Homo sapiens: one gene and its partners. The protein of the gene in region 1 purifies or fractionates together with the protein of each later gene. This does not show direct contact. Each region holds a gene or a part of one and is shown on either strand. Other genes may lie near its edges.

Region 1 (7,034 bases):
TCTGCTACTCTATTGTATGTTCAAATTGCAGCCAATAGTTAAATGTACTATATCTGAACAGCTCTTAGAACAGTGTCTGGCATGTTTTAAGTACTGTACAACCATTTATTAAAGATATAAAAACAAAGCAATATCCTTTTTCTGATACTTCAACACAATACATCAGGGATTCCACTTGGACTCAAATGTAGCCAAATACCAGGTATATTCTTTTACTTTTTGACCTTTGGTCTTTTTCCTGCAGCTTCACCTACTTCTAGTTTATGGGATTTTTTTTATGTTCTAGGCCCTGTGCATAGCACAGCAACTCATCCCCACTCTGTCCCTTTAGAGTGGGCAGATCATGAGTATTGTTCCCTGGGTAAAGTGTCTGACTGCCAGACCCACTAGATGATCTCGACCTGGACCTAGCAGTTCCTCTCTGTCTTGTTAACTGCTGTGCTAAATATTCCACCCAGCGTTTTCAGCTGTCTTCAGTGTAAGGCTTGCCCCAAGTTACCTTTTGTCACTATTGGAAATGAAAATTCTACTTCATGTGCTTTATGTAGTTTAAATCATATCTTCACAAGACCCTAAAAAGGAAACAAGTGGGTTTTCTTAGTTCTACAGATGAAGAAAAATGAGGCATGGAGAGTTTAATTTTCTTGTCATGGGTCATAGAGTTGATGAATAATAAATCAGATTTTGAACCCAGGAAGTGTGGTTACAGAGCTCATTCTGGTCCATTTTGTGCTGCTGTAACAGAATTCCACAGACTAATTTATAAAGAACAGAAATTGATTGGCTCACAGTTCTGTAGGCTGGGAAGTCTGAGATCAAGGGGGCTGGCATCTGGTGAGGACTTTGTTGCAGTGTCACCCCCACGGTGGTGGGGGAGAGAGAGGTGGTAGGGAGAAACAAAAATGGGGCGGGGGGGTTAGAAACAAAAGGGGGCCAAACTTTTATAAGGAGCTCATTCCATGCTAATAAACTCCCTCCTGTGATAATGTCATTAATTTGTTAAGTCTGCCCTTGTGGCCTGATTACCCTTCAGTAGGCCCCACCTCTCAACACTGTTGCATTGGGGATTAAGTTTCTAACATGATTTTTGGGGGACATATTTAAACCATAGCAGAGCTTGTGTTCTTAACCTCTGTGTCTACTCATTTTCTTCATTTCACAAAGCAGTATAAACTGTTTTGTCATGAAAAGCATTCTTTTTAAAAGGTCAAACAAGTCTCCATCTTTGCATGCTTCCCTTACAACTTTGGGCACAGCTTGGCAAAAGCCTAGGCATCTAGAATTTAATATCCATAAGTGTAGTATATTCTGTATCTTTTGAAATGGCCATGTAATATAGATATCAATTTAGTTCACTATTTTTATGGATTTAGACATAGCTTCACAAACATCTCAGTCTTGCAGAGAGAAAAAAATTATCTGAATTTTGCCAAAATTGCCTGTGTTGTTTTATTGAATTTGGTCAAGATATGCAGGGATGACGCATACACATCCAGTAATTGAACCATTTGAATGTCTGGTATGGAAACCAAATTTTTAAAATCTGGAATCTTCAACTCTGAAAACTCGTATCAGTGAATAGGACTCAGAAAGCTCAATTTGTATGCTTTTATGAGCCAAAAAGTACGTGGGATTGTGTCAAAGCAGGATACTGTTATTTACCTCAGATGACTGAAACCACACCAGGACAGCCAAGGGCCTTCCAGGGTGCCAGGGCATCGAAGTACCCTCCACGGCATTCTCTTGGGGATCCAACACTTACATGTCACCAGCAGCAAGAGCTGCTTCATTTCTTCTATTCCATTTGCTTGACCAAATGCTGATGCATTTCTTTTTCAGGTCCACGCTAGTTTGATTTTGTTATTAATATTGTTTTAAAAAATGCCTTTTTCTGCCTTTGGTAAACTAAAGGTCTAACATATATTCCAACTTCTTTTGACAGAGGAAAAGACAAGCATACGAATCTAACCTTATCTGTCATGGCCTGCAGTTAGAAGCAACAAGATCAGTAAGTACTGGTCCCTTTTCAGCCCTCGGCTGACCACTGTTCTCGGGCAGCTTCGTGCCACTTGGAATACTTGGGTGACATTGGAAACATGCAGCCCTGGCCACATCTTAGTCATAGACTGGGAGAGGAGTCAATCAAAATCTGCATTGTGTAGGATGTATTCTTTTTTTCTGATCAAAACTAGCAGATCTTTTTTAATAGCCAACGAATTTTACAATGAATGCATGTATGAATGATTATTTTCTTTCTTTAAGAAACTTCTAAAAGCTTTTTTGTTATACAAAAAATAGTTTATGGTAAAAAATTAGAAAACATAAGAATAAGGAAAATAATCTGTATCTTAATTATCCATAAATAATTTTGCAGTCCTTCTGAGCTGTTTTACTCAAAAATATATATGTACACATTTTTTATCTTTCAAAAAGGAGAAAATTACCACTTCACAGTTTTATAATTTGCTTTTTCCCTTTAATATATAGCAAATGGATTTATGTCAATAAATATAATTCTTTGACATTTTTAACAGCCACATAATATGATATTGAACAGATAGACAATAAGTTCATTCGAGGTTTAGAAAATTAAAAATTTTTCATTATGCTAGCACTACAATGAATATTCTAGTGTTTTTACTTTAAGTCAATAATTAGGGTAGAGTGATAGACAAATAAGTTTGGTTTTCTTCATTTTATAAATTATTTTCATAGTTTTATGAACTATGATGATTTGAATTACTTCCTTAATGATTCAAACCAAGAAATCGTCTTTAAGACAAAAATTTATGATGGTTTGCAAATCTGTTTTTATTGTTATCTTCACTTTTAGTGGTGGTCTCTGTATTGTTTTTTTAAAGCTACCAACAACATAAGAAAAATCTATGTGTTTTAAAATTGTGAAAAGAGTTGGTTTCTTGTTCTGCGTTTTTATTTTTCCAATATAGGTATTGGATGACAAGCTTGTATTTGTAAAAGTACACGCACCATGGGAGGTGTTATGTACGTATGCTGAGATAATGCACATCAAATTGCCTCTGAAACCCAATGATCTGAAAAACCGGTCCTCAGCCTTTGGTACACTCAACTGGTTTACCAAAGTCCTCAGTGTAGACGAAAGCATCATCAAGCCAGAGCAAGAGTTTTTCACTGCCCCATTTGAGAAGAACCGGATGAATGATTTTTACATAGTTGATAGAGATGCTTTCTTCAATCCAGCCACCAGAAGCCGCATTGTAAGTCTAAACCAAATTTAGTTGCTGTCTTGGGGTAATTTGGAACCTGCTGTTTTGTGGTTTGGTTGGTTTGGTTTTATTTTTAAAAACTGCACAAAAAGAAAAGAAATATGCCAGCAGATTTGTGTTACAGTAGTAAACAATGATTGGATTGGTTAATTACACTATATAAACCGCATACTCTATTTTGGAATCTTTTTAGGTTTACTTCATCCTCTCTCGGGTCAAGTATCAAGTGATAAACAATGTTAGCAAGTTTGGGATCAACAGACTTGTAAACTCTGGGATCTACAAGGCAGCTTTCCCACTCCATGATGTAAGTTAAAAGGCAAAAATGAACTAAAAGGCCTTCTGTATACTCTGGTGTTGACAATAGCAAAGGGCTAACTTTCCTGACTGTAAGTTTCTTCCTCAGTAAAATGAAGGGAACATACTGCAAGATTACAAGCTCATTTAGGGTAAGAACTAGGTCTTTTGTTCACAGATGGATCCCAGTTATAAAGATACTCAGTTTTAAAGGAGCGAATGAATGAATGGACAGGACCTCTCTCACAGTTAATGTGTAAAGCAGTATAGATTAGCAGTTAATCTGTGTTAGCATTTCTGAGACCAAAATGCCTGCCCTGCCACTTTCTAGCTGGATGACCTTGTGAAAGTCATTTAGCCTTTCTTCCTCCATTTCCTCATCAATAAGCTGGGGATAAATTATTACCTACCTCCTAGAGTTGTTAAGAGGATTAAATTAATCCATTAAATTAATCCAAATGTTAGTCCCTAGCATATAATAAATACTATTATAAGTGTTAGCTGTTTTCATAATTACTAACAGATGTTATTATCAACCAGAAAAGATTAGTTCTTTGTCAGCAAAATACATGTTAGACCTTCTCATTTATCATTTTCTGCAACATAGACTTTTCTTCCTCATTTGGAATACGATTTTCAAACTGTCCCCTGGAATATCCCTGGGCTTTTAAAAAGGCATCTGTCAGGGTTGTTGTGACAATGGCAGTACCCCAGATGGTTGACATTTTTTTAAGGACTACATTCTGAGACCACAGCAACCCCTCAAATTCAAGAGTACTTCTCTAGCCGAGAACATCTCTCGTGAAATGAAATTTTTAAAATGTGACCACTGTAAATGCAGGGACATTATAACTAAAGCTGTTTAAACTCTGTCATTGAAATAAATTAAATACTATATTATATTGCATTATTACTTTGTTATATTCACTATCAATTTATCTGACTGTGTAAGACCAAAGAAAGTAAAGACTGAGATTGGTAATTGCTACTGTGTAGTACATGTATTTGTGGATAGAGACGATATTGAAATGTACTGAATAACATAATAAAACTAGGACACTAAACAGCAGCTTGATACACATGGAAAAGTAGAGAACAGGGAGCTGGGTGAGGTAAATACTGATCCTAAGAGACCCAATGTAGCCATCCAGCCTGAGAGTCCATGTGTTTTACTTTTGTGCCCCACTGAATTTAGCTAATTGCGAATAACAGGACATGAATTTTGAGGCCACTTGCAAATAGCTGTCACGAATATTAATTTGGGATGCCAGGGTTCTCTAACAGTTGACATTTGCTTTTGGCCATGTCTTTTCCACTAAAGCCTCTTCTAATTGCAGTGGTCCTGTATTCAGGCTAACAAATGGTCCCATGTGGTATTTGAGAGGGAGGTGTGTGAAGGTCAGGGCCTGTGCCCTGATTTGGCTGGGTGGTAATCTGGTTCTAGTGCCAGAAGAAGAAAAATGAGTCAGAAAAAAAGGCAACTGGATTTAAGCAGGAAGTTTTGTTTCTTGAATAAGCTAAGTGTGTAACATGATACCCAGCTTTATTGTTTGTTTTCTGTATGTTATCACAGAATAACTGCTGAACTGGGGGCAAAGAAGCCTAGGTTTTAGAATTGACCCTGCTGCTAACCAGCCAAGGCCTTGGTTTCCCCATTGTCCAAGGAGAGGGGTGGGTTATCACGTGTTCCTCTGGTGTGGTGATTTGGGCACTTGGGTGGCCCAATTTTTCATTGTGTAGGACTGCCCCACTTAAAGCATTTTAAGCATCTCTGGGGCCCTCACAGAGTCCCTGCAGTGCTCCCCAGGATTGTAACACCCAATCGTTCATCCCTGCCCACATTCATAAATGACCCCCAAGGAGGGTAGTACCATGCCTGGTTAAGAATCACTAAAAATTAGATGGTATTTCCACCCTTTCCAGAAGGTGAGGACCCCTTGTTCACAATTGACTATCAAGTATTTGTATCACATTTAAGAAGCAGATTTGTGAAAACACGATGATTATGGTGCTTACATGTTCCCTTCTGCGTCACAGTGCAAATTCCGCCGTCAGTCAGAGGATCCCAGCTGCCCTAATGAACGGTACCTTCTGTACAGAGAATGGGCTCATCCTCGAAGCATATACAAAAAGCAGCCCTTGGATCTTATCAGGTGAGGGGTTGTAGGGAGTACTCCAGGGGGAGGCACTCAGGGTGTTACCCCCACAGCATCTGAATGTGACAGTACTCATCAAGACTCTTGCCAGTGAAGGGAGCTGACCCAGAGTGCTGAGCTTCGTTGGCCAGGGTTTTTATTGAGGCTTAATTATGTGGGCATGATTAATTGAATCATTACCCATCTCCAGTATCATCCTCCCCCTGGAAGATGGCCAGTAATATGTGGCTCAAAGCTCCAGTTCTCCAATCACATGGTTGATCTTCTGGCATGGCCAGCCTCCACCCTGAGTCATCTCATTAGCACAAACTCTCTAGAGGTCCACCATGAGCCACTTCACTGGCATAAACTATCAGGCGTAGTCCTAGGGTCCCACTGTGAATAAAAAGGCACTCCTATCTCTCAGGAAGTTCCAAGGGTTTAGAGGTTACCCACCGCCCAGGAACTGGGATGCAGACCCACCAAATTCCATATTGCACAGAAGTAAATGTTAGATGTAGTTTCTATTGTATGGTAAGACATGTACATTTTCACTCTTTTCTTATGTCTGCCTCTAGGTTCTATTTCGTTGTATCTCACAAGATACAATGACTAGCTCAAGAGTTTTTCTTCCCAAGGTACCCTGTTGGTTTTCCTCCAGAAGCTTACGTTGTTTGGGCAGGGCTGAGGATTCTGGCTTGTGGGAGATAGACCAAGAACACCCAAACAAGCCAATAAAACATGAAAATAAATAAACAGAATTTCTAATGGAAGTGAAGAAAATAACAGAGCAATAGGATGGGAGGGCAGAGTGGGAAGTGAGTTGAGGGAGTTATCTTTGAGGAGGTGACTTTTAAGCTGAGATCGGATAGTGAAGAGGAGCCAGTGCTTTGAGGACTTGGCAGAAGTCCTTCTAGGAATAGGGGCAGCTTGTACAGTGGCCCTGAGATGCACACACATTTGGCAAGTTTGAGGAAACATCAGAGACCAGTGCTAGTGAGAAACAGAGCAAGACATGAAGTTAGAGGGGTGGCAGGAGCGCCGAAAAGAGTTTAGACTTTAATTGCAGTGAGAAGCAGTTGTAATATTTTAAATGTTTAAGTCATTGTATCCTATTCACGTTTTGCAGATAATGTGGAGAATGGATTATAAGGGGTACAGGGAGCAGGGAGACCACTAGGTAGGAGGCTGTTTGAGCCAGGCAGAAGACTGTGGGAGCAGATTTGGGATGTGTTTGGGGAGTCGGGTCGACAGGACTTGTTTATGGATTGGATGTGGAGAGTGACGAGGAGAGGAGAGTTAACTTCATGTCTGTCTGGAGCCACGTACCTGTTTTTTTATGGTGTCTCAACACCCC
Region 2 (7,000 bases), on another chromosome or scaffold:
CAACATGAAAAGGTGAGTGTCATCATTCTTCTGTGTTAGCAGCTTCAGTGAGCGCTGCTGCTGAGGATAAAATCCGTATTCTCCTCCGCCTTTTCTAACACAGGAAAATTGCTCAGCTACTCAGGGCAGCTTTTTTTTTTTTTTAAGCCAACAAATTTTAATCGTGCCATGCATCCAGTTATCCAGCTTGAGGTGGAGCTGCCCGAGGGGCTTCTGCTGGATGCAGTGCTGATGGAATTAGTAATTTGGGTGGATTAGAGAGGAAAAGAACAAAACTCTAGAGACGTTTTAATATCAAGAGCTATAACCTGAACAGAGACCCCCACAAACACCGAGAGTGGGAAGTGGGGAAGTGATGCTGCTCTGCCAGCAGGGGACAGGTCTCTCAAGGCTGCCTGGCTGTTGGCTGACACGCCCCTCCCCCTGGGCTGAGCCGCCAGATACAGCCTTTCAGCCTCATGAAAGGGTTTGCTACCTTTTCTAACAGTGCTCACCAGTGATAAAAATGAGGCAGAAACTGCCTGGTCAGAATAAAATCCAGTATTTCCTTATGCGATTTCCATAGTAAGTAAAACCAACATACAGAAAGAATAATTTCATCTACAAATAAAAACTAGCTCCCGAGGAGGGGAAGTGCAGAAAAATGCCTTCCCCAACAAACCATGTGGTGTTGTTGATGAATGAGAAAGGCACAGACTGAGTTACCTGAGACAGGATTTAGCTGGAACACCAGGCTAACATCCTAACACCTGGATTTTGTGTCTCATCTTGAAGCTGCTCCTTACACTGCATTCCAAATGCTTCTTGCTTTTGTTGCCCCACTTCCATCCTAACCCACATGATTCTGCTGGGAGACCCAGCCTCCAGCTTCAGACCTGAGACAGCTCTGTTGGAGCACGGGTGTTAGCTGACGAGCGAGGACAGTGGTTGCAGGCACCCATGCTGCGTCGCCACCCTGCCCACACTCACCAGATGCCCACGTCCTTGTTACTGCTCAGTATCCAGGTCAGTGCGGCTTCAAACTTGGCGGAGGAGCTGCTGGTCACATTCTGTGGGAGGGCGCGGGAGAAGGTTAGTTCGGCGTCTGGGCGGAGCAGCTGGAACATTATTCTGCTGCTGGATTAAGGAAGCCCTCTCCCGTGTCCTCCACAGCCCCAAAACCCTGTTCTGCTAAAAGCACAGCAAAGTGGCAGGAAGGAAATCGGGGGTTGATGAAAGCCAAGGAAGAGGCTATAACCAGAGGAGGTGATGCGGAAGCACAAGCAGGAAAACAGTGCGGGTCTGAGGCGGCCAAAAGAATATGATTCTCTCGAGGATGGAAGCATCAGGCCAGAGAGCTGGCAGCTCATCTTAGGGTAAAGCGAATAACAGCGTTGTGGCTGGGGGTGGGTGAGCCCAGTGGCCGGTGCAAGTGGTCTGGCCTCAGGCAAGTCCCTGACCCTCTCCAGGCCTCAGTTTCTTCATCTGTGAAATGCAAATGGAACCAGATGACCCCTAAGTTACTGGACAGGCAGGCGACCTGGAATACCAGCTCCATAGTTCTATAATCTACCATCCTGAGGCCACACAGGAAATCAGACGGCCCCTGGGCAGTCTGAATGGTAATCATACGGGGGAGAAGGGACAGCATGTTTCTCCTGAAAGCCGAAGGCAAGACGAGCAAAGTGAACCAAGGGAGAAGCAGGTAACAGGCACACCTACAGTGCAGCAGTCAGGAGTGAGCCGCCCCACTGCACATGGCGGCCTGGCTCTGGGGCAGTCACTACCATGGCTGCCTTAACTGAAGGTAGTCTAGCACAAAAAGCCATAAACCAAACCTTAACTTAAGGTAGCCTAGTACAAAAGCCACAAAGCAAACAAAAAACAAAAACCCCAACAGGGCTTGAAAGACCAATAGGAAAGCACCAGGCCCTCCCAGGAATGTATAAGCACTGAAGCCTACTTACGGCTATATATTCTTGGGCTTCCATAACAGGAATGCATTTGCTTTTTAGATTCTCTGGATTTCCACACTCAAAATTACCTAGGAGAAAAAAAACCACACATGCTCAAACACAAAGGAAAAATCACTCTGAAACAGACTAAAAAATGCAGCAAGAATCAAGCCATCAGCTCTAATAAGGAGCATGTTGCCCAGCGGCTCCTGGCTTCTGTGGGGCATCTTCACTCTGCAGCAAGATCAAAAGCCACTTAGCTTGGATCGATTCCAGATCATTAAAACCTGACCTGCAAAGCAGTGTGGCATTTTGCATTAAATGACTAAAAAGCTGCCCAATAGCAAGGTCTCTTTGCAATTGATCCCTAAAAGAATCAGACAGATAGCTTCGGAAGGTACCGGAATGGCACTATAAATAAACACAGCCTGAGAAAAAAGAAAGGCAGGGAGGCCATGGGCACCACGGGGATTCTGACTCATGACACAGGCAGGCGACCTGGAATGCCAGGTCTATTGTCTTGAGGGGCCCCTTGGAGGAAGAGGATGTCTGTGTGCTGGGCAGTGGGGCCTCAGCACAGCACGCCAAGGGGCAGCTCCCCCGAGTGGCTTTGGAGGCCTGCTCCCATAGGATGGAGCTGGCAGCCTCCCACTTAGTCCTGCCCAACCTCCCCGGTCCAGCCCAGGGGCCATCTCCCCTGGGAAGCCCTCAGCCCCTGGGGGCCTTTTGTTTGATGAAATGGCCCCAGATTTGGTGACCTGCCATAGCCCTTGGTCCTCGCTCCTGTGCTGTGGTTTGCCTGACTCCCCGAGAGCAGGGAGGGTGCAGGGCCACGCACGCATACACTATTTAACACGTGTGCGTGGCCTGACTGCCCTGACCCAGCACAGCCTGGGGGACTTCGGGTGGCCAGTGAGTGTGTTTCTGCATGCTGGGGAAGGGAGCAGCTGAAGGTCATATTTTAAAACTTTGAAACTGAACTGAAGCCTGTCGCCTTCCCCTAACACAGCCAGATCCTCCTACTTCAAAGTTGATCTTGACCCCAGGGGTCCCCTGAGACACAGGTGGCTTCTAGCATCCTCCTTTTCCCACTAGGACTCTTCCTGCCCTTGCCAGGCCTGCCTGGACCACGTAGATGGCCTCTCGATTCGGTTCCTCCTCTCCCTTTCCCAATCCAGTTGTTTTGTCAATAACACTTGAAAATGATTCTGCTTAACTGTGCTACTCAAGCTGCTGCCGCATTCACCTTCCTGGCACCTGGCTCTCAGCATGATACTCCCTTGCTCAAAGCCTCTCTGGCCCTCACTGCCTGCCAGATCAAGCTCTGGTGGCCTGGCATCCAAGGCCATCTATGGTAGGGCCCAACCAACACTTCCAAACTTCATTCTCTCATCTTCCCCTTCCTCCATGAAGGTGCTGCTTCCCACTCGAGATGTAATTTCCTGCCGCTTTGCCTTGTCCTTCCCCACATACATGTAACCAGTCTTACCTGGGCTTCAGGGCCTGGCACAGATGCTACCTCCTGTGACGCTCTCCTGACTGCTCCAGCTAAAAGGCATTGTGCCTCCCAGAACTTCTGGCCTCTTGGTTCTTGTCTAATCACATTTTATATCACCCAGTGGTCAGGGAGGTAGGTGGCCTGTCTCTTCCAGTAGACCCCAAGCCGGGGTTGGGCCCTGCAGGCAGGACCTGGAGCTGAGTCATCTCACTGCAAGGGCCTGCACAGTGCCCAGCCCACAGCGGATCCCTAACAGGAGAGGCATGGAAGGGGTTGAGGACTACTAGGGAGCCTCTGTGAGGCACACTCCTGTCTCAATGAGATATGTACCTTCAAGGCGGCCCCCCAGGCTTGTCGGAGGGCAACAGGTGCCAGGGCCCTTGAGGGCATAAGGCAAGACCACATATGGAGGGTAGGATGGAGGAGAAATATCTACTAGGACCCAATTTCGAGCAGTGCTTCTCAACTTTAGGGTGCACTCAAATCCCCTGGGGATCTTAAGATACAGACTCTGATTCACTGGGTTTGGCATGAGACCTGAGATTCTGAATTTCTAGTGAGCTCCCACGTGATGCAGATGCTATGGGTCCTTGGACCACATTTGAGACACAAAGGTTTGGAACACTCTCTTAGGTCAGAATTGACATCCCAAGCACCTGGGCCGTACAGAGGAATTCCTATGATGCTGTGAGCAGGAGCCCCAGTACCTGTTTCTCCTCCAAGTGCTCATGGATGCCTCCCCTACCATCTCATCTCTCACTTTCAAGAGGGAGGAGGCAGAAGAGCTGATGCTCATGAGATTGACCCTGAGGACTGAGGGCCCAGGAGAAGTCCACCCGACCCTAATTTCCCAGTGAAACCTTAGACAAGGGTTGACCTCACAATCCTAAGACCTGTCCTCTGACCCCACAGGTAAGAGGCGCCTCTTGAATATCCCTTAAGATAGAACTGCTCTGTCTGGTTCTTGTGTCCAGCGCATTTAACACAAGGCGCACATGCTGATATTCACCTATGTCAACTGCAAGTGATTTTGAGAGCCTCCTGGATGCCAGGCGTCGGGCAGGACATAATAATGCAGGTGGTATCTCTGGCCTCAAGGAATAACTTCACCAAATAAAACAGTAGGGGATGCATCTTCTGGATGCATTTTCAGGGGCATTTCACAGAGGTGCTGAGAATGCCCTCCTTTAGAGGACAGCACTTGACTCTCATTTGTAGAGAACAGACAGACCCAAGAGCCCTTGGTCAGACAGGGAGATGAAGACCCTGAGAGGATCAGGGACTTTGTCCGAGGTCCCACAGCCACATGGTGATCAGGACCAGATGTGACACCAGGGCCCACTACACAGACTATCTGCTACTTGCACAGGCAAGAGGCCTCTCCCGGGCCCAGCCAACCACCTGGTTCAGAGGGTCCCTCTAGGGTGAAGGACACAGATCCTGACAACACCTGGGGCTTGGCCCCTTCCCATGCCAACAGAGACCCCCAAAGCATTAGGTAGTGGGCATCCCCAAGAAGGAAGAACAGCTGCAGGAAGGCCTGTTCACATGCCAGGACCTCCCTTAAAGAGGAGCAAGAATCAAATATGTTTTGTTCAAACACAAGGCTTATAAAAGATGTGCCTGAGTGAGGAGGCGAGAAGGTGAGACTCGGCTTCTGAATATGCCTTCTGAGAGACAACCAGGGAGTGTCTCGCTGGCCAGCAGCAGTGTAACTAAGCCTGATGAACCGGGTCAGCCGCCCATAGCTCTCACAAGAGGAATCTCAGGACTTACGTGACTTACTCACCAGCTTGGATGGCCAGGAAATTGTAGAGTTCATGCAGCAGCTCCAGCAAGGCTGCCTTCTGCTTGGCCTGACAGAACTGGAAAGGCACGGGACAAGTGGTCAGCAAGGAGGGGTGGGTGGGAGGGGTCCGTCTGTCCATCTTTACTTCTCCAGCCACACTGTCAAATACTAAACAGCAAGGAATATCTCATACTTTTACAAAATAGAAAAAAATTCTGCCAAGTGCTGGGCCTAGGGAGAGAGTTGATAAATATTGGGTTAACTGCCTGAGAAAGACCCTGGAGAAGCAGAGGCAAAGCTGAAAGCAGACACTGTAACCAAGGGGCTGCATCCCAGAGGCTCCTGGCTCCTGCCTTTCCCTTGGAATGACGGCCATTAAGAGGGCTGAGCAGAGGCGACGTGGTCGGGGGATGATGCAGTCGCTCAGCTTCCTCAGAGGAAGAGCAACTGCTGTCGGAGTTTGCAGAGATGGGAGAGCTGGAAGAGCTAGGAGAGCTTGCAGACAGGGCAGAATGTCAGCAGCTGCCATCTCGTCTCCCGTTAGGTGGAATCTCAGAGCCCTCATCTGAGTAAGGATTGTGGTAGGATTCAGTGCGAACTCACACAAACCACTCAGCAGAGGCTGCTACCACCTAAAGGAAACAGGAGGACAGACGGTACCAGACAACGAGACGGCCTGATTAAGACAACACACCCACTCCCAGCCTGTCCCCACGTTTTCAGCAGCACAAAGGCAGAAAGAAAAACACAAAGTGTCACCGTCTTCAACGACCGAAAAGGGAAAGAACATGAATCTGAAATTCAAATGCCCGTCTGTGATCTCGGTAAGCCTGGAGCCATGCAAAGAATAAGACTTTCAGCAAGAGCCTCACCAAAGCCAAGAAACACGTCCCCACCTGCTTGTTCCTGTGTCCACCCTCCAGAAAGGCCAAGGGTGCCCCATGAAATCTTAGCTCCACAAAGCCTGCATTGAGATGGCCCAGCCCCTGCTTTCTGATGCTCTGATGAAGGTCTGAATGGTTACAAATAGGGATATCTGCGTCTGAAGCCCTCGCTGGCAGGTGCTGAATGCCGTCTGCCCACGGAGCGCATCTGTAGCTAGGACCTGGAGGGTACCTGTCTGGGCTCACTCAAGTGGAGCCTGAGTGTGTCCAGATCAGAGAAGGCCAGGGAACAAATGTGCCATTCACTTGTGGGTCTGATTCATTTAGAGATGTGAAGGACCAAGAAATAGAAACCATGGAACTTTTTTCTAATTAAAAGACAAAACTAACAGCACTGAGAAGTCTTACAGAAAGTTATTTTTTCCTGTTTTTGTTTTAAGTCTTCAAATTCCAGTTTCCCCTCTGGCTGCCTGTGTTTCTGGGCCACTTCCTCTCATCATCAACTACAGTTTTTATGATAGAAGGCAGATTAAACTTACTATGAATCTGTTTTTACAAAACAATTGGGAAGCAAAGATATTTGGTGGATGAATCCAATAAATGGATGTAATAAAACACCCCCAACTATGACACACCCGAAGCCAAAGAGAAATAAAAGCCGTTATCTGCACCAGGATGCCCCCTCATTTACATGAGTAAGACAGTCAATGCAGGGCTGGCCAGAGGACCATGCGTCATTTTCTTTCCCAGCCCCTGGGCTACTAGAGATGTTAACTAAGGACTTGGGAGGCCAGGCATTGCACACTTAATTAGACTACTAAGTCATGCCCTCTGGCAGCACAAGACTCCTCCTGGTACAATTTAAGACCTGAAAATTTACTGCCCCATATCTTCT
Region 3 (6,977 bases), on another chromosome or scaffold:
GGTCTCGAACTCCTGACCTCATGATCCACCCGCCTCAGCCTCCCAAAGTACTGGGATTACAGGTATGAGCCACCGGGCCTGGCTCTTCCTTTTCTTTGATACATTCCTCATTAATAAGCATTCTTCCTATTGCAACAGTCTGAACAAAATGATTTGATTTATAGTCCAGTGCATCTCACCTTTCACACCCTTCTCCTTTATTCCCCTTTTCCTCATCACACAGAATTTTACAATGAGATTTCTGCTTGTGTCAATCTATCAGAAATTCAGCTGACAGGGTGCATGACACTGCGAATGAATTTAATGCCTTTGAACTGAACACACATGGTCCTGACTTAATGATGGTTTGACTTAGGATTTTTAGACTTTAGGATGGGTTTAGTTTTTCTGTAGGTAACCCCATTGTAAGTTGAGGACCATCTGTACTTAAAAATTATACGCTGTATTTTATGTATTTTTTTTCTTTTTTTTTTTTGAGACAGAGTTTCACTCTTGTTGCCTAGGCTGGAGTGCAGTGGCGCGATCTTGGCTCACCGCAACCTCCACTTCCCAGGTTCAAGCGATTCTCCTGCCTCAGCCTCCCAACTAGCTGGGATTACAGGCATGCGCCACCACACCCGGCTAATTTTGTATTTTTAGTAGAGACGGGGTTTCTTCATGTTGGTCAGGCTGGTCTCGAACTCCCGACCTCAGATGAGCCACCCACCTCGGCCTCCCAAAGTGCTGGGATTACAGGTGTGAGCCACCGCGCCCGGCCTTTATGTGCATTTTACTACAATTAAAAATTCATCTTGCAGAGAAATGCAATGGAAATAATTTATTCAAAACAATTAGAACCCCTACTATGTGCTGGGTGATAGGTTGGGGTTGGGGAAATGGGTGGGGCCTGAGTTAGGAAATGAGTAAGACCTGCTTCCTGTGGTCCTGGAGCTCCCAGCCTTGCTGCGGAGACAAACCCATAATCTGTTAATTGAGCTCCATAATTCCAGGTGACACACATTACAGTACACATGCGTAGCGCCTGATTTCAGTCAGGATGCAAAGGGCTTTGAATGCTACACTAAGGACTTTGGATTTTGGTAATTGGGAGTTATGAATGGTTTTAAAGCCAGTGTATGACACGAACAGATTCATTGCAATTCCTAAAGTCTTAGCACCAGACATTTGACATTGTAGGGTGTCAAAGACTGATGGCAGTGACAGGCTGGGCACCATGGCTCACACCTGTAATCTCAGCACTTTGAGAGATGAGGTGGGAGGATCGCTTAAGGCCAGAAGTTCAAAACCAGCCTGGGCAACATAGAGACCCCCATCTTTAGAAAAAATTTTAAAAATTAGCTGAGGCTCACCCAGCAGTTTGAGACTGTAGTGAGCTATGATCACAGTACTGCACCCCAGCCTGATGGATTGAGACCCCATTTCTTCTTTTTTTTGTTTTTTTGAGACGGATCTGCTGCTCAGGCTGGAGTATGGTGGTGGGATCTTCTTGACTCACTGCAACCTCTACCTCCTGGGTTCAAGTGATTCTCCTGCCTCAGCCTTCCAAGTATCTGGGATTACAGGCACCTGCCACCACGCCCATTTAATTTTTGTATATATATGTATATATATATTTTTCGAGACGAAGTCTCACTGTGTTGCCCAGGCTGGAGTGCTGTGGTGCGGTCTCGGCTCACTGCAACCTCCGCCTTCTGGGTTCAAGTGATTCTCCTGCCTCAGCCTCCTGAGTAGCTGGGACTACAGGCGTGTGCCACCACGGCTGGCTAATTTTTTGTATTTTTAGTAGAGATGGGGTTTCACCATGTTGGCCAGGATGGTCTTGAACTCCTGACCTCAGGTGATCCGCCTGCCTCCCAAAGTGCTGGGATTACAGGCCTGAGCCACCGTGCCCAGCCAAGACCCCATCTCTTTAAAAAAAATAGCTGTGACAGCTTTAATTTTAAAAAGTTGATCCCCTGTAAAGTAGGCTCATAATTATGTTTATCTTATTAAATATATTCATGCTCAGGAAAGCAAGAGAGTGTTAACTTTGGTTAAGTCTATTGGGAAGACATAAACACAGATCTGTCAATTGCTCTATATGAGATGTGCATGGAACACTTTGAGAGCTCAGACAGGAGAATCTACCCTGCCTGAGAGGTTTGAGAAGGACCTCCAGAAGGAAGTGGACTGCAGAAAAAAAAAAGAGGGAAGGGAAGCTGGAGCATAAAGATGGAGGAAAAGAGTCATGGGCAATAAGGCCAGGGCCAGATGGCAGGGGGCTTTGTGTGCCAAATTGAGGGGCTTGAATCTCCTCCCCACAGGTGATGGTGAGCCATCAAAGGCCCGGTTAATAAGAATGATGATGATGAAATAGCGCTTATGGCTTGGTGCGGTGGCTTACACCTCTAATCCCAGCACTTTGGGAGGCTGAGGAGAGAGGATCACTGAAGTCTAGAAGTATGAGACAAATCTGGGCAACTTAGTGAGACCTCCCCCACAACCCCATAGCTACAAAAAATAAAAATTAGCAAGGTGAGGTGGCACACACCTGTAGTCCCAGCTACTTGAGAGGCTGAAGTGGGAAGATCCCTTGAGTCCAGGAGGTTGAGGCTGTGGTCATGCCACTGCACTCCAGCCTGGGTGACAGAGAGAGACCCTGTCTCAAAAACAAAAACAAAAACAAAAACAAAAAAAAAAAGAAAAGAAAAAAGAAAGAAATAGTGCTTACTACACGCAAGGCACTGTTCTAAGAGGTTTACCAATATTGACTCATTTAACCCTGACACTTACCATGGTTAGATAGTTTGGATCACTTTAGTGGCTACGTGGAGACCAGTCTGGACACATGTTGTGGTGCCGGATAAAGACGAAGGGATGTGCCTGTAGTCCCAGTAACTCAGGAGGCTAAGGTGGCAGGATCACTTCAGCCAGGGAGGGAGAGGCTGGAGCTGAGATTGTGCCACTGCACTCCAGCCTGGGCAACAGAGCAAGACCTTGTCTCTCTTTTTTTTTTTTTTTTTGAGATGGAGTTTTGCTCTATGTGGCCCAGGCTGGAGTGCAATGGCTTGGTCTCGGCTCACTGCAACCTCTGCCTCCCAGGTTCAAGCGATTCTCCTGCCTCAGCCTCCCAGTAGCTGGGATTACAGGCACGTGCCACCACGCCTGGCTAATTTTTTTTTTTATTTTTAATAGAGACGGGGTTTCTCCACCTTGGTCAGGCTGGTCTCGAACTCCCAACCTCAGGTGATCCGCCTGCCTCGGCCTCCCAAAGTGCTGGGATTACAGGCGTGAGCCACCGCGCCTGGCCAAGACCTCGTCTCAAACCAAAAAGAAAAAAAAGAGGAAGGGAGGAAAGGAGGTGATGGCTTTTAGAATTAATTAATTTGTGTGCTTTCAGTTCTTTTATATCTGTAGGTTGCTTGATGGCCCAGACTATCACGGCAAAGGAGTCATTTGCATTTGAAGAGAATGTGTCTTCCGCAGTTGTTAGGTGGAGTTTCTATAAATATCATCAGGTCAAGTTAGTTGGTAGTGCTGTTCAAGTCTTTTATAAATTGATAGTTTTCCAGCTATTTTACGGATTTGTCTATTTCTCCTTTCACTGCTATATCTTCCAAATTGATTCAGAGAGCTGCAGTCAGGAGCGTACTATTGCAGAGAGGATAGAATGTTTGGGACCAGAAGAAACGTTTTATCTCTTTAAATTTACTCTCGTACGCAGAAAACAAAATACAAATAAACTACGTATCCCAGCAAGCCTAGTGGAACTCAGGGCAAATGCAAATAAGGGGGGGGGCTGGGCATTCGGCTACGCCCCTTTTCTGGGTTGGCAAGGCAACTGATACAGAAGCCAGCCAATCGGTGATATAGTCACCTGCAGGGGCGGGGGCTTGACGAAAGCCAATAGGACGCAGGGCAGATGGCTCTTCGGGCCAATGGGTTGGGCGACGGGGCGGGCTTTTGATGAAGGGTCGTTGGTGGGAAAGATGGCGGCGACTCTGGGACCCCTTGGGTCGTGGCAGCAGTGGCGGCGATGTTTGTCGGCTCGGGATGGGTCCAGGATGTTACTCCTTCTTCTTTTGTTGGGGTCTGGGCAGGGGCCACAGCAAGTCGGGGCGGGTCAAACGTTCGAGTACTTGAAACGGGAGCACTCGCTGTCGAAGCCCTACCAGGGTGAGGCGCCCAGGGTGAGGTGGTCGTGCAGTGGGGCGGGCTTCGGGACTTGATTTCAGGGGTAGAGGCGGGGGCGGCGAAGGGCTTCGTGGCCCGGAGGAAACTGCTGGCGGTGGTGGGGCCCACGGAGACTCCCTCCGCGTTTGGGAGCCACAGGTCTGAAAGGCAGGAGTTAGGTGTGCCTGCCAAGCTCTGGAAGTTTCCAGTAGGTAAAGGCAGGGCTGTCGGGTGCCACTAGTACTAGGCCTGGAGTTAGACAGGAGGAGTTTGGGAAGGGGAGAGAATTGAGAATGGTGAGGAGTGATTGAGGGCTACTAGCAATGAGCCAGTCTCCAGATGGACCTGTGGATGTGCTAGAAATAAAGCAGGAGGAAGAACTGGGGTAGAACTTGAACGAAATGAGAAGATGATAAATTTATGTTGCTGGGTAGAACCACCTTCTCTTCTCCAGCCTAGGGGCCCTGTTGGTGAAAGAGGTTAGGGTTCACAGAACTCTAAGCACAGCTTATCAGCCAGAAAATTAATGCAGTTAGCCACAAAACGATGACAAACCAGTGCAGATGGCTTAACTAACACAAGTCTTTCCCCACTAAGGCGTAGGTAGTGGGACAGAAAACAATTCAAAGTGCAAGAGTATACTCTACTACTAAGGGTAATCATTTATTCACTTACATGCCTGGAGTGCCTCTGTGCTGTCTCTTTGCTAATGCTTATGGGTTTGCAGACACAAAGTTTTCATTCTTAAAGAAGTTTATAGGTGAGGGTACAGGGAGTAGCTTCACACTTTAAGGATTGTTTAAAGAAAGAATGTGACGGCTGGGGCGGTGGCTCACGCCTGTAATCTCCGCACTTTGGGAGGCCGAGGTGGGCGGATCACGAGGTCAGGAGATTGAGACCATCCTAGCTAACACGGTGAAACCCCATCTCTGCTGAAAATACAAAAAAATTAGCCAGGTGTGGTGGCGGGCGCCTGTAGTCCCAGCTACTCAGGAGGCTGAGGCAGGAGAATGGCGTGAACCCGGGAGGCAGAGCTTACAGTGAGCCGAGGTCATGCCACTGCACTTCAGCCTGGGCAACAGAGCGAGACTCCATCTCAAAGAAAAAAAAAAAAGGAAGAATGTGACTAAGCCCCGGAGGCCTGAGGGTCAAACTCTTTTTATTTATATTTATATATTTTTAGAGACAAGGTCTTGTTCCGTTGCCTAGGCTGGAGTGCAGTGGCACAATCATGGCTCATGCAGTTTCAATCTCCTGGGCTCAAGCGATGCTCCCAACTCAGCCTCCTGAGTAGCTAGGACTATGGACAAGGACTACCACACCTGGCTAATTTTTTTTTTGGTAAAGACAGGGTCTTTCTATGTTGCCCAGGCTGGTCTCAAATTGCTGACCTCAAGATGCCCTCCCTCCACATCATCTCAAAGTGTGGGGATTACATGGGTGAGCCACTGCACCTGGCCTGTCAAACTCTTTTTGATATAACTCAGGAAAATTTTTTTCTTTTACGATGCTGAAGTTTACTCACATATAAAACGGGAAGAATGGATGTGAGCTATGGTTACTGTAACATGCATAAAGTGAGAGTTCTGATGTGCTTTGGGGTCCTTACCTGATAAAGGCCTTGTGAAAGCTGTAGAGATGGTAAGATTCATGACTGAGAGAAGATAGGAGATTGAGTGACATTAAAGGGGGAAAAAGATGATGGCTCAGCTTTCAGAGGCTCTGTGGTGGCTGCTTTCTGAATGGATTGGTGTTGAAAAGTATGAACTGATCTACTTCCTTCCTGTAGGTGTGGGCACAGGCAGTTCCTCACTGTGGAATCTGATGGGCAATGCCATGGTGATGACCCAGTATATCCGCCTTACCCCAGATATGCAAAGTAAACAGGGTGCCTTGTGGAACCGGGTGGTAAGAATCTTTCTCCCTCCTGTGTTGGTGACCCAGAAAGGCCTAAAAAGTTCAGCAGTGGCATACTGATTTAATTTTACTGTCTATCCCCCTGGTATTCTATCTTCTGTGGATATCAAGGATCTTTATTTTTGAGATTATTCTGACCTTGATAATAAATAAATCAGGTATTTAGGAAAATGCTCTCTATTTAATTATAGCAAATAATTCATTTTTTTTTCCTGAAATGTCGTTAATTCCTGATTGGCCCAATAGTACTACTTCTTAGGGTTTAATAATAACTTAACTCCTGCTTAACCACTTTGTAAGAAGATTATAAGAAGACCAGAGTGCAGTGGCACAATCATAGCTCACTGCAGCCTCAAACTCCTGGGCTTAAGGGCTCCTCCTGCCTCAGCCTCCTGAGTAGCTGAGACTACAGGCATGTGCCACTGCACCTGGCTAATTTTTAAAACGTTTTTTGTAGAGATGGGGTCTTGCTATGTTGCCCAGGCTGGTCTCAAACTCTTGGTCTCAAACAATCCTCCTGCCTTGGCCTCCCAAAGGTCAGGGATTATAGGTGTGAGCCACCGGTCCTGGTTGAGAGTACTCTTAAATTGATCCCAAACCTTATCCCAGCATCCCCATCTTGTTATTTCAATTTGAAGAGTCTGATATAAAATTTTATTTTCATGTGAAAGCCACTCTGAGCTGTTGGTCATTTTATTTGTCCTTCTCTGGACCTTTTCTAGCTGCATTGTCTTCCTTGAGGTATGGCGACAAGAAGTGAATGCAGTATTCCTGGTGTGGCTGCACTGTGATTTTGTACAAGTGTAAGATGATGCTTTCTTTTCTGTTTCCAGGGCTTTCTAAATCTTTTACGACCAGTTTACTTTTGGGCATGACTCTGGCATCCTTTGATACTTTCTCTGGAATTC
Region 4 (7,034 bases), on another chromosome or scaffold:
CCTCCGCCTCCTGGGTTCAAGCGATTATCTTGCTTCAGCCTCCCAAGTAGCTGGGATTACAGGCATGTGCCACCACACTCAGCTAATTTTGTATTTTTAGTAGAGACGTAGTTTCACCATGTTGGTCAGGCTGGTCTTGAACTCCTGACCTCAGGTGATCCACCCACCTCGGCCTCCCAAAGTGCTGGGATTACATCGTGAGCCACCGCACCCAACATAAGAATGGTTTTTACCTTTTAAAGGGTTGTAGGAAATAACAAAGATTATGTGATAGAGTCAGTATGTGGACAGCAAACTGCCCTATTTAGTCTTTGATCTTTTACAGAAAAAGTTCAAATTTTATGTTGTTACTAATTGCAGACAACCCGAATAAACATACTAGAGCCTGGGATTAAATGGCACGCAGCCTTTTTTTTTTTTTTTTTTAAGTACAATTTCCATTTTATTTTTTCTCTGGAGAATAGTCTGTTTTTAGTCGTTTTATTTTCATTTTTTTTTTTTTTGAGACGGAGTCTCGCTTTGTTACCCAGGCTGCAGTGCAATGGCACGATCTCGGCTCACTGCAGCCTCTGCCTCCCAGGTTCAAGCGATTCTCCTGTCTCAGCCTCCCTAGTAGCTGGGATTAGGGGTGTGCCATCACGCCCAGCTAATTTTTTGTATTTTAGTAGAGATGGGGTTTCACCCTGTTGCCCAGGCTGATCTCGAACTCCTGAGCTCAGGCAATCCACCCACCTCGGCCTCCCAAAGTGCTAGGATTACAGACATGAGCCACCACGCCTGGCCTTGTCTTCAGTGTTGAAGGACTCAGCTCCTTACATGGGCTTTGGTGGGTGTGTTTGGTCCTTGTGGGCTTTACAAGGTGGATTCCTGACGACTTTTCTGTGAATTGCACATCTCACACAGTAATTTAGCTTCACATACAGCTTGGGAAGCACATAGGCATTGAAGACACTCGCTTCACAAATGTCCCTGACTGCTGCGGCCTCCACCACATTTCGAATGATGAATTTTTTTTTTTTTTTTGAGACAGAGTCTCGCTCTGTTGCCCAGGCTGGAGTGCAGTGGCGGGATCTGGGCTCACTGCAAGCTCCACCTTCCAGGTTCACATCATTCTCCTCCCTCAGCCTCCCGAGTAGCTGGGACTACAGGGGCCCGCCACCATGACCCGCTAATTTTTTTTATTTTAGTAGAGACGGGGTTTCACTGTGTTAGTCAGGATGGTCTCGATCTCCTGACCTCGTGAGCCGCCTGACTCAGCCTCCCAAAGTGCTGGGATTACAGGCGTTAGCCACCTGCCCAGCCTCGAATGATGAAATTTCTTAATGGCCTTGTCCTTGGGCACACGTCGGGCACAGTTTGTGCAACGAATAGGCTGCATGTGGCTGTGCCCCTTTTTGGCATGATTGTTGTTCCTTCTTTTCTTTGTCATCTTGGAGGCACGGACTGGAGGGAGGAGTGTAGCCATTATTGATCATATTTTTGACTAATATTTAGTGAACTAGAAGTTGCTTATTTGTGATGTCAAGTAGGATACAAATAACACAGTATGATTATAATTTTGTAAAAATGTATAAAGTGTGTATATATGTATGAAAAAAACCAAAAATTCTCTAATGTATTAATAGTAGATATTTTGAGATGGTGGCATGATTTTTATTTATAAAGTATTTCTTATGATTATAGAATCATATTTTAAAATTTTTCAGTATTTTAACTGAGTGGGAAACATTTCCTGTCAAATAAGGATATGGAGACCAGTCCATGGTACTTTAGATTAAAAGCTGAACTCACTGGGAAAAACCTTATTTTGCATGTGTAACTAGTAAAGCAGAAACAACAGTGTACTGTTCGGCACTGTCTGAATAGTAATTATAGAGTACAGCTTTCATACAGAAAAACAGAACCAATAAGGAAGTCAAACTTGGCAGAATAGTTGAGTGCAATTTATAAATAAGTCAGTTGAAGAAATCATCGACCTTTTACCTGTGGCTGATTCGTGTAATGGTGAGAGTCAGCACAAATCTTAACATTTAGCAACAGCATGTATGTGAAGCTAAAACTTGTAATGCTCTCATCTTTAATGTATTTTAAGGAAGTTGATGCCTAAAGTAAATTTATTAAAAATTCAGAGTTAATTATTTAAGATAGTAATAAATTTTGTGCTCTCTTTGGCTTGGTTGTTCTTTATCTTTAACAATTTTAAGAGCTCTGTTCATAAATATCAGTCTTGTAAAGCCCATTGTTCTATACCTGATTTTTCTATTTTATTTTTAAGGTCTTTTTGGTTCATCACGGGTGCAATATGTTGTAGATCATGCAATGAAAATTGTTTTCCTCAATACTGACCCCTCTATTGTAATGACTTATGATGCTGTTCAAAATGTGCATTCTGTGTGGACTCTCCGGAGAGTCAAATCAGAGGTAAGGAGAAAGGCAAGTCACTTCTCCTTAATAGGAAAGGGTAGGCTGGGTGCACTGGCTCACACCTGTAATCCTAGCATTTTGGGAGGCCAAGGCAGGCGGATCACTTGAGGTCAGGACGTTCAAGACCAGCCTGGCCAACATGGTGAAACCCCATCTATACCAAAAATATAAAAAATTAGCCAGGTGTGGTGGCTTCTGTAATCCTATCTACTCGGGAGGCTGAGGCAGGAGAATCACTTGAACCTGGGAGGTGTAGGTTGCCGTGAGCCAAGATCATGCCACTGCACTCCAGCCTGGGTCACAGAATGAGACTCCATCTCAAAAAAAAAAAAAAAAAAAGTATATATATATATGAAAGAGTAGTTAATACTTCATACCCTCACTTTTTTTTTTTTTTTTTGGAAAAATCACTTGTGAATAGTTTTATTATCATCATCATCATCATCATCATCATCATCATCATCATCATCATCTCTAGAGACAGGGCCTCACTCTGTCACCCAGGCTGAAGTATAATGGCACAATTACAGTTCACTGCAGCCTTGAACTCCTGGGCTCAAGTGATCCTCCTGCCTCAGCCTTCCGAATAGCTAGGACTACAAATGTGTACCACCACTCCCAGCTAATTTTTAATTTTTTGTAGAGATGGGATCTTGCTATGTTGCCCAGGCTGGTCTTGAATTCCTTGGCTCAAGCTATCCTCTCTCCTCACCCTCCCAAAGTGCTGGGATTATAGATGTAAGCCACGGCACCTGGCCTCATTTGAGAAATAGATTGAGCTTCTTAGGAAAGAAGAAATACTGTGTCTTTAGTAACTGACTTCAACTTGCATTCTTACAAGGAAATTGCTACTTTATTCTAATTATTGTTTTTTTTTTTTTCCTCTTTCTCTTTATTTTGACTTAAGGAAGAGAATGTTGTTTTAAAGTTCTCTGAACAGGGGGGAACCCCACAGAATGTGGCCACTAGCAGCTCCCTCACAGCACATCTCAGAAGCCTCTCCAAAGGAGATTCCCCTGTGACTTCACCTTTCCAGAATTACTCCTCCATTCACAGCCAGAGTCGCTCAACCTCATCACCCAGTCTACATTCTCGCTCACCTTCTATTTCCAACATGGCAGCTCTAAGGTATAAGGGTTTCCTGGTTTTTCTTTCTAAGCTTTCTGTTTTGTTTTGAAGGATTTAGAATTTCTGTTGACAGCTGTTTTTAGGGGAAATATATTTAGGGGAGATGTTTTTTAGGGGAAATAGCCATTATCCCAATTGAGCCTTTTTTTTTTTTTTTTTTTTTGAGACGGAGTCTTGCTGTGTCACCCAGGCTGGTGTGCAGTGGCGCAATCTTGACTCACTGCAAACTCTGCCTCCCGGGTTCATGCCATTCTCCTGCCTCAGCCTCCAGCTGGGACTACAGGCGCCTGCCACCATGCCTGGCTGAGTTTTTTTTTTTTTTGTATTTTTAGTAGAGATGGGGTTTCACCGTGTTAGCCAGGATGGTCTCGATCTCCTGACCTTGTGATCTGCCTGCCTTGGCCTCCCAAAGTGCGGGGATTACAGGCGTGAGCCACCGTGCTCAGCCCTGAGCCACTTTTACTAAGATTTCTAAGTTTACCATGTCACATTCTTTCCTGAGTCATATTTTGAAGCTGCCTATGCTTGACCTAAGGTTAGTTGCCTCATTTCTACCACTATGTGGGCAACAGTTTGATGAATATTAATTCCCAAAATACTGTGGCACTATTTTATTTTTGCCTTAATTTATGTTAGTTTTTCTTTTTTTTTTACTTGTTATTTGATATGTAAATGTATCTATTTCTCTATATAGATATATATTTAAATGACCAGATATGTATATCTGGTGCTACAGGGACATTGTTTTGTTGATAAATATATATGTCTGACTATACAGGGACATAGTTTAGAGCTTTTTGAATAATCATTCATTTTCCGAAAAAGAAGATGATCTAAGTTTTAGTTGTAAAAGATGAGTTCTTCTAATAATAATTCTAAATCTTTAGAATATAGTAAAGCACATTGACATGAACCATTTAAATAGCTACTCCTTTTTGAAAAATTTTAATTTCTGACCTGGATTATGCCATGAATGCTCTTCTGTCTGTGGAATTTTTGGAAGTGTCATTGGAGTGTGTGTCATATAAGCCTGCCTTGCTAACTGTGATGTACTCTCTCCTCTGTTTATTTTGCAGTCGTGCTCATTCTCCTGCGTTAGGAGTGCACTCTTTTTCAGGGGTGCAAAGGTTCAACATTTCAAGCCATAATCAGTCTCCAAAGAGACATAGTATTTCTCATTCTCCAAATAGTAATTCTAATGGCTCCTTTCTTGCACCAGAAACGGAGCCAATTGTTCCTGAACTGTGTATTGACCATTTGTGGACAGAAACGATTACTAATATAAGGTTTGTTATATATATTATTATATTCAAAGAAAAATGTTGCTGAAAGTCTTGGGAAATATATGGCATTTTGTTTAAAGTTTCCTTTTAATGTGATCAGTTATTAATATATGTAAAAATATATAGAGATATGTATTAAGGCCACCTCAGTTTCAGTAGAGGATATTAATGATATTAAAGTGATCATAGGCTGGACGTGGTGGTTCATGCCTGTAATCCCAGCACTTTGGGAGGCTGAAGCTGGTAGATCACTTGAGCCTAGGAGTTCGAGACCAGCCTGGCCAACATTGTGAAACCCTGTCTCTACTAAAAATACAAAAATTAACTGGGTGTGGTGGTGCATACTTGTAATCCCAGCTACTCAGGTGGCTGAGGCAGAATTGCTTGAACCCAGGAGGCTGAGCTTGCAGTGAGCTGAGATCGTGCCACTGCACTCCAGCCTGGGTGACAGAGTGAGACTATCTCAAAAAAAAAAAGTCATCATAAAAATATTATTTTGTCATCTGATATTTCTTCCTTTATAGTAATAATCTCTCATTTTTCGGGTGTTTTTTGTTCTGGGGAGAAACAGTTAATTTCCATCCGTGAGGAAATGTGGGGTTTTAGCACGTTTCCTAAGTTTTATGTTCATGTTAGTTGAGTGCCAGCTTTACTTTTTGGGAAACATAGCTTAGATCTCTGTTCTGGGTGACCTTTCTTCTTTTATATTCTCTTTAATAATTCACGTGTTAATTTATATGCCAATGTGTGTGCTAGTTAACAGTCTAATAAGTCACTGTCCCTGTCCTCAAAAGAGGCAGATAGCTGAAGGATGGTGACACAGGAGGGACTACTTTTGCTGGTAGGGCTTTGAAAGACGAATAGGTATTCGCTAGGCAGGGAAGTTGAGAAAGACCACAGACGGCAGCTGGGATCAGAACAAAAGTTCTGGTGAGTGCGTGGTGTATTTAGGGAATTACAAGTACTTCCACTCTGGTTTTTGCAGAGGGGAGGGAAAAGGCTAATGAAGAGGAGGCTTCCTAGGCGCAGTGGCTCACACCTGTAATCACTCACTTTGGGAGGCTGAGGCAGATGGATCACTTGAGCTCAGGAGTTCAAGACCAACCTGCCCAAAATGGTGAAACCCCATGTCTACTACAAATACAAAAATTAGCCAGGCATGATGGCGTGCATCTGTAGTCCCAGCTACTCTGGAGGCTGAGGTGAGAGAGTCATTTGAACCTGGGAGTTGGAGGTTGCAGTGAGCCAAGAGCACACTACTGCACTCCAGCTTGGGCAACAGAGTGAGACTGTCTGAAAAAGAAAAAAAGGAGGCTTGAGAGATTACTGATTGCCCTTTAGGCCTCTGGTATGTTTGATGACAGCGGTAAGAAGGCACTTTATAAGTGTGTCGGAAGTTTGGGAAAGAGCAGAACAATAAATGTGGAATTGTCAGCTTATAGGTGGTGATTGAGGTAAGAGAATTAGATTAGAATTGAAGAATTATTGTATTCAATAATTGTGTGTACATGTAGTATATAGGCCTTTTCCCAAGGAGAGGGTTTTAACATTCCTTAGATTCTCAAAGGGATTTGTGGCCTCCAAATAGTTAAAATCCAGTGGTGTAGAATGAGAAGAGGGCTAGGAACTGAAGTCCTGGAAACTTAAGATTTGGGGAATGGAAAGAGACAAAGCTGGCACAGAGAGACAAAGCAAAAGAGGTCAGATGGGAGAAGCAGCAGGAAATACAGAATACAAAAAAGAACATTTCAAGAATACAGAGATGCCAGTATTGCCAGGTACTGGTGAAGTGTGGCCCTGAGAGTTGAACCCAGAGAGGAGGTACCTGGGTGGCAGTGGGTTCCTTGGTGACCTTGGCCAGAGCATTTTAAGCTGGGAGGGTGGCGGGGGAAAGTGGGGTAGAAAAAGTAAATGGGGACTGAGGAAATGAACATAGGCATACAGACTCTTTAAGGAGTTTGCCTTTGAATAGGAATGAAGATACAAAATTAGAGGGAGTCTTGGTCAAGGAGAGTTTTGTTTTTGCTGAACTATAATAAAATTAGTTTTCATGACATCTTGCCCCAGTATTTTCTTTTTCTTTTTTTTTGAAACAGGGTCTCACTCTGTCACCCAGGTTGGAGTACAGTGAGTGACTCAATCACAGCTCACTGCAGCCTTGGCCTTCTGGGCTCAGGTGATTCCCCAACCTCAGCCTCC

The links.
Region 2: the proteins of ANO6 (region 1) and LEMD2 purify together in Homo sapiens (affinity purification with mass spectrometry; 2 studies listed by BioGRID and IntAct, with this or other methods). This does not show direct contact.
Region 3: the proteins of ANO6 (region 1) and LMAN2L purify together in Homo sapiens (co-immunoprecipitation; 3 studies listed by BioGRID and IntAct, with this or other methods). This does not show direct contact.
Region 4: the proteins of ANO6 (region 1) and ANAPC1 purify together in Homo sapiens (affinity purification with mass spectrometry; 2 studies listed by BioGRID and IntAct, with this or other methods). This does not show direct contact.

Annotation. Positions count from the first base shown.
Region 1 is NC_000012.12:45,345,080-45,352,113, forward strand, and holds part of ANO6 (anoctamin-6), read left to right. Parts: intron 1-1,942; coding exon 1,943-2,008; intron 2,009-2,948; coding exon 2,949-3,236; intron 3,237-3,438; coding exon 3,439-3,552; intron 3,553-5,579; coding exon 5,580-5,695; intron 5,696-7,034. UniProt on the Homo sapiens protein: Small-conductance calcium-activated nonselective cation (SCAN) channel which acts as a regulator of phospholipid scrambling in platelets and osteoblasts.
Region 2 is NC_000006.12:33,779,131-33,786,130, forward strand, and holds part of LEMD2 (LEM domain-containing protein 2), read right to left. Parts: intron 5,390-7,000; coding exon of another isoform or gene 5,363-5,389; exon of another isoform or gene 5,331-5,362; intron 5,298-5,330; coding exon 5,222-5,297; intron 2,024-5,221; coding exon 1,947-2,023; intron 1,050-1,946; coding exon 970-1,049; intron 1-969. UniProt on the Homo sapiens protein: Nuclear lamina-associated inner nuclear membrane protein that is involved in nuclear structure organization, maintenance of nuclear envelope (NE) integrity and NE reformation after mitosis.
Region 3 is NC_000002.12:96,737,032-96,744,008, reverse strand, and holds the start of LMAN2L (VIP36-like protein isoform 2 precursor), read left to right. Parts: upstream 1-3,944; 5' UTR 3,945-3,968; coding exon 3,969-4,155; exon of another isoform or gene 4,156-4,169; intron 4,170-5,941; coding exon 5,942-6,060; intron 6,061-6,791; exon of another isoform or gene 6,792-6,872; intron 6,873-6,977. UniProt on the Homo sapiens protein: May be involved in the regulation of export from the endoplasmic reticulum of a subset of glycoproteins. May function as a regulator of ERGIC-53.
Region 4 is NC_000002.12:111,860,193-111,867,226, reverse strand, and holds part of ANAPC1 (anaphase-promoting complex subunit 1), read left to right. Parts: intron 1-2,275; coding exon 2,276-2,421; intron 2,422-3,331; coding exon 3,332-3,552; intron 3,553-4,628; coding exon 4,629-4,838; intron 4,839-7,034. UniProt on the Homo sapiens protein: Component of the anaphase promoting complex/cyclosome (APC/C), a cell cycle-regulated E3 ubiquitin ligase that controls progression through mitosis and the G1 phase of the cell cycle.